Regions from separate parts of the Homo sapiens genome. Here region 1 is linked to region 2. Evidence: fine-mapped expression QTL. A gene starts in region 2. The other region holds a variant in brackets. All regions are shown on one strand. Distances are from middle to middle.

The links. PIP is the estimated chance that this variant, and not a neighbour inherited with it, causes the effect.
Region 1: its variant is the best candidate, but not a certain one, in a credible set for the expression of MIR181A2HG in fibroblasts (GTEx, PIP 0.69).

What each region holds. Positions count from the first base shown.
Region 1 is chr9:124,601,692-124,604,608 of GRCh38, forward strand. All of the region lies in intron 2 of NR6A1 (nuclear receptor subfamily 6 group A member 1), which reads right to left. Among named protein-coding and RNA genes, the nearest start is that of MIR181A2HG, 55 kb to the right of the region's middle. The variant G/A (reference allele first, on the strand shown) is at 1,236.
Region 2 is chr9:124,657,027-124,659,943 of GRCh38, forward strand. MIR181A2HG (MIR181A2 host gene) reads left to right here and starts at 1,410. Exons shown (of 2, transcript NR_038975.1): 1 at 1,410-1,715. The region is part of intron 2 of NR6A1 (nuclear receptor subfamily 6 group A member 1); the gene reads right to left. RefSeq lists enhancers at 1,457-1,576, 2,398-2,447.

The sequences.
Region 1 (2,917 bases), 55 kb before region 2:
GTGGCTCACACCTGTAATCCCAGTACTTTGGGAGGCAGAGGTGTGTGGATCGTTTGAGCTCAGGAGTTCAAGGCCAGCTTTGGAAACATAGGGAGACCCGTCTCTATAAAAAAAAAATTAGCCATTATGGTGGCACACGCCTGAAGCCCAAGCTATCCTAGCTGAGGTGGGAGGGTTGCTTGAGCCTGGGAGGTTGCAGTGAACTGTGATCACGCCACTGCACTCCAGCCTGGGTGACAGAGCAAGACCCTGTCTCAAAAAAAAGAACAGCCTTGTGTTAACAACCAAATGCAATATATGTACTTTTAGATCCTGATTTGAACCAAATAATTGTAAAAAGACATTTTTGGGACAATCCAGGAAATTTAAATATGTGTAAGACATTTAATTAGGTAAGTTTCCTACCTGCGAACTGAGGAACCTGGAAAAGGTGAGCTTTTCCTCCATTTAAAATTTCTCACAATTCCCCAGTCAAGATTTTATCCATGAATTTTTAAAGTATCCCAATCAAGAACAGATTATAACATGAATAAATAAGTCCTTTTTGAATGAAAACAAAGGAATCAGATACAGAGCATATAAATATAAACGCAGTCAACTATTTTGTCTCCTGAGAGGTCTAAACAAGTTGGGACTTATTCATCACATTTGGCACCCGTGACTGTTTACCTTCTTCTCAAGACCCAGATTGGCCCAGAGATTAATGCAAATAAATACTCTAGCCCTGAACACAGCAACAGCTCAAACTGCTGTTAAGCAACATGTGAAGCTGAAGTAAAAAAAGATCAAAGTTGTACAAAGCAAGTCTCAAACTTGGGGGCAGAGTAAAGTGACAGGCTTTCTCCTTTGGTGCTCCTATAAAGGTAGACCACTTGAAGGTTAGTTTTTCCAAGCCAACTCTGGTTTCAGCCCTCACTTCTCTGGTTGTTTCATTTGTTCATACATCCATCTACCTGACCTAGAGACAACGTCAGATGATATAGGAAAAGACTTCTATCTAAAAAGAACTCAGTTCTACGTGAGAATTCTGGGAAAAGGCAAGATAAAATGCCCCCATTAAGTGTGGCATGATCTCATTGAGTCCCATCAGTGGTTCCCAGGAACCTATGGTATAAAGGCCCACACTCCTAAGGCCCTCCCTCTATAACCCAGCTCTTCCTGACTTCTCCAGCTTCATTTCCCACCACTCCTCTTAAGTACCCATTACTCCAGCCATGCTGACCCACTTACTTATA[G/A]TGCAAATATTATACTAAGCTATTCCATTTGCCTGGAATAACTCTTTTCACTATTTCCTTATAGTTTCCACTCCCACTTACTAATCTTACTGGACTCAATTTAAAAATCACCTCCTCTGTAAAATATTTTAAGACTCCATTCTCCCAGACTTAAACTCAAAGTCAAATCGCACCCTTCTTCCCTTCTGCCTGGATCCCTAAAATATACTACGACATTACTCATCACGTAGTATTTTTATTTTACAATTCTATCCTTTCTTATTAATCTCATGTACTCCAAAGAGTCAAGCCCAGGGCTGTCTTCAGTTTAGTATTTAAAAGGCTTTCATAATACATTAAAGCAATTAGATGGCTCCTCGAGAGGTGTGTGTGTTGTGTGGGTGGGGTACAGTTCTTCTGTTGAATTTCTTAATAGTGCATTCATATTCTTCTTCATTTTCACATTTTCTAACTCTTTCATCTTACCTCACGACAGGTTTTTTCCCCTAGACAAACTCTACTTCAGAGTCTCCCATGTTTCAGGCCCTGTGTTAAATATACATTTTCTGATTTAGAAGCCTACCTGAGACTAAATCTTCCAACAATGAAGGGCTGGTACTGGTAGTCAAAGGTTCCTGATCAATATGTCATTTGCTGGGTTCCTGCATCAGTGTAGAACCACCTGTTGCTGACGATCTTTTGATTAACATATATAACATATGTATCCGTCACTGGATTCCGAAATATGAGACCAAGGACTGTGCCCCATATTTTTGCCAACCAGTGTATCTCCAGTGCTTGAATATTTGTTGACTGAAGAAAGGAAGGAAAGGAGCTGCTTCAGAAAGCAGCAACATAGGAAAGGGGGAAAAAAAACCTTCAGGAATACAAATAGACCACCTTAGGCCAGCCATTCCCGCAAAGCCAAAACCAGTTTTCCCAGTCCCAATTCCAACTCCAGCAAATCTTACCCATACACAGAGCTCTCCTCTAATTGAGGGATTGGCTGTAATAAATCTGACAAGATCAGTTGCAAATCAGCAAGTGGCAATCCTACCTGCACCAGTTCTATCCCTTTCCACTCTACTAAAAATTGAACTCTCTAAGGATAGGCATAGGTAAAAGAAAGGACAATGAGGGCTTACGCAGTCTTTCTTTAGGGTAGAACTTGGCTCCTGATGGCAAAGGAATCCATTTTTATCCAACAAGAAATAACGCACATAATCCCAATCTGAGTCAACTACACTCAGCAACTGAGCCTTATCCTAGGTCCTGGAGTCAGGAACTGCTCCCCTGAATCTCACATCCTGATATCCAACTGCCTCCTGGGCACCTCCACCTAGATGTATCCATCATAAGCACCTCAGACAAGTCCAAACTTGTCTTCCTTTAAAACTCTGTTCCTCTCTCTGGCCCCCCTGTTCAGTGAAAGGCATCAACCACCCAAGCCAAAAACCTGGCACTCTTTCCATGGCTCCTTCCTCCTCTTTGACTATACCCACATACAACCTGTCATAAATCCTGTCTTTTCTACCCCCTCAAAAGTAGCTGAATCAGCTACCCTGAAGAGGTATTTACTAAACAAAGATGGGATAATTTGAGCATCACTTAAAAATTATTAAATAGGGCACAGTGGCTCACACCTGTAATCCCCGCACTTTGGGACGCTGAGGCGGGTAGATCGTTTGAGTCCAGGAGTTCAA
Region 2 (2,917 bases):
CTATACACTTAAAAATTATTACAACAGTCAATTTTATGTTACATATACCTTACCACAACTTAGAAAAAAAAAAGATTGTCTTGTGGCTTACAAAAAGCAAGAGAGTGCTCATCTCCTCTTCTTTCGAACATTCTTATATCTAATAGTGCATCAAAACAGCTTTTCTCGGGTTAAGACAAGAGAATAATTCTGGGGTAGTCCTCATATGGAAGGTGCTGCATAATATAGTCAACATCTAAAAAATTCCAAGTACAAACATCCAAACCCAAAATTTACAGCAAAAGAGACAGATGGAATTATTTCAACAACTGTGAGAAAGGCAAGAAATAAACAGAACTATTGGTATGTTTAAGTATCAATTTAGGACTCTATAAGCTAATTTCTAAAGAGACAAGAAAGTCCACGGAAAAAAATGATTGGTCCATGTAGAGTAGATTTCATATATCAGAGTCAAGGTCTCACAAAACAACTTTACTGTTTTGAAACTTTAAAGAAGTGTCAACTTGCATTAAATAAACAAAGCAACTGCCATGTACTAAACAAAAATGTCACAAATGACAGTCCTGTATAATGACCTGGTTTCCCAGTGGCTCAGAAAGATGGAAAATAAACCCCAAGGACCCTAGTTCAGACAGACTGAAGAGAGCAGACCGTGGCTGTCTTGCATGATTAAAGGCTATGTCACAGCTCAGTAGGGTCCATGCTTTCATAGCTTCCCCCCCCCAGCAACCCCTAATGTGACTAGGACTGGGACAAGAGTGACAGTCTCACAAAGGGGATAAAAAGACATAAAGCTTCTTCCTCATACATCCAAACACTCCAGAATCTAAAACTTCACTTCTCTGTTGTCCATCTATCCAATTTTCATTAAGAGCAATTTATATCATATAGAGGCTTCAAAGTCAAATATGCCACTTTTATTTTTACCTTATCAAACCTATAAAATCAAGACCAAGGGTTGGTCTGGATATGAAGCTTGGTTAGGATCACAATAAATTTTCAAATCAAATAATTGGTTTCAGTTAGAGCCAAGTTTATCAACAATAGGGTGATTTAGGATTCAGGAAAAATCGGCTGCCTATTTGTATTTCAGAAAGACTAGTATTTCTTCTGACACAAGTAGAGAGGTGTAAGCAACCTCTGGGTGGGTAATGCCACCAAACAAAAGCAACACCTTCAAAGTCTCTCAGTGACTAGAGGCAGCCAGACACTCAAACTGCCAGTCCTGAATTACGGCCTCTGAATGGTGAGGGCTTCACATTTCACCGATCAGGGCACAGCCCAATCAGAAGACAAACCCCTGCACTGCCAGGGACCAGCAAATCCGCTTTCTTCCAGTGTGCACATGACTAAATGTGCTTCTGTCCATCATCTGGGTCATATATAGTTCAATGCGAGCTGAGCAGACAGGGCTGCAAGGAAATCTGGCGCGGTTCAATACCTCGTCTAGCCTGGGTTCCAGTATCTAATTTTTTTTTTGTTTTAACTGACAAACTCATTTCTCTACTGGGACAGGATGCTGTGCTGGCTGGAAGTTCCATTTCTACAGCAAGAATCCTATCTGGAAACACAGAAGTTGTCCTCTAGCCACAGCAGCTCGAACTTTTTTGATTGTCGTTGCTGCTTTCTCCCATCACCCCCATCCCCTTTTGACAAAGATCCAACTGTAAAAAGTCTTACGTAACAGTTCAGGACTACTTCGGTTCTTTTACTGGGTAAGCACTTTCAATTTTTTTTTTTTAACTAAAAGCCATTTTAAAATTGAATCTGTTGAGGGGCTTGACTAAAATCTTTTAAGTAATTTGTGTAATGGAATACTGTCAGTGGATTTTTTCGTCTCATTTCTGCACGTGCTCCTTTGTTCTCAGAACAGAAGCTTTTTATACACATCCCATAACGCAGCTGGAGAGAGTTATGAAGTCAGTTATTATAAGGAACACAAAGGTTGCTTTCCATTCTTTGCCTTTAGATAATTAATTTTTTTGTTTTCTTAAAATGGAGTATTTAAAGAAGGAAGAAATTCACAAGAAATAAACTGTTGGAGAATTTAGAAAAGTTTGAAGTTTTTACCACCTTTTCTATCTCTAGTTTTGTGTGGCCAAACACTTGTGCCGCCTGGGGCGGTGGGGGTAGAGGCAAGCATAGACAGAGAGGAACTAAGCCAGACATGGACAAAGGCACGAGCCAAAACCAGACAGTCCTGGCCGTTCGATAGGCCAGCAGTGGGTGAGACAGGTCAGCCAGCTGCAGGGGCGGGAGCGGGGGGGCGGGTAGGGACATGGATGTGTGAGGTGCTCATGCGTGCGATCGTGACTAGATTCTGAAACTGCCAGCCATTTTCCCAGCTCCGCTTTGTGCAATCTAAAGGAATGCATCCCCTCTGAAGCAGTCTTGCCAGAGCCTAGTGAGGGAGAGAAGTATGGTAAATACCACAACATATGGAATCAGAAAATACCGGGAACTGGAGTGGGCAAGGGGGAATGCAGAGGGTGTGGAAATTTTTTAGTGATCTGGAATGTGTTGAGTGACAGGAAGTGCCCCAAGCTTCTCCCCCACCAACTCTTCTCAGTCGCGCCTGCTTTTGTCTAACTCTTGTAATCTACACACTACTGCTTACAAAGCTGTCTGAGTTTAAGACAAAAAGAAACCTAAAAGTCTCCTTACTTCATAGTACCTGTGATATGGAAGGAATGTAAAAGCATGACCCTTTAAGCCTATGGACATTTTTTCAGGTATACAGGAGAAAGATAAAATAATTTTCCACAGAAAAATGAGAATTATGAATTATATAGTTCAGGTTCCAAATCTAATTTTTAAAAGAATTCTGATTCTGCTACACTTTACAAATGCTTAGGTTGGTTCCTAATTTGAAGCAGACTTGTTTTATTTGGTTAATGCATTGCATTTGAACTTGTTT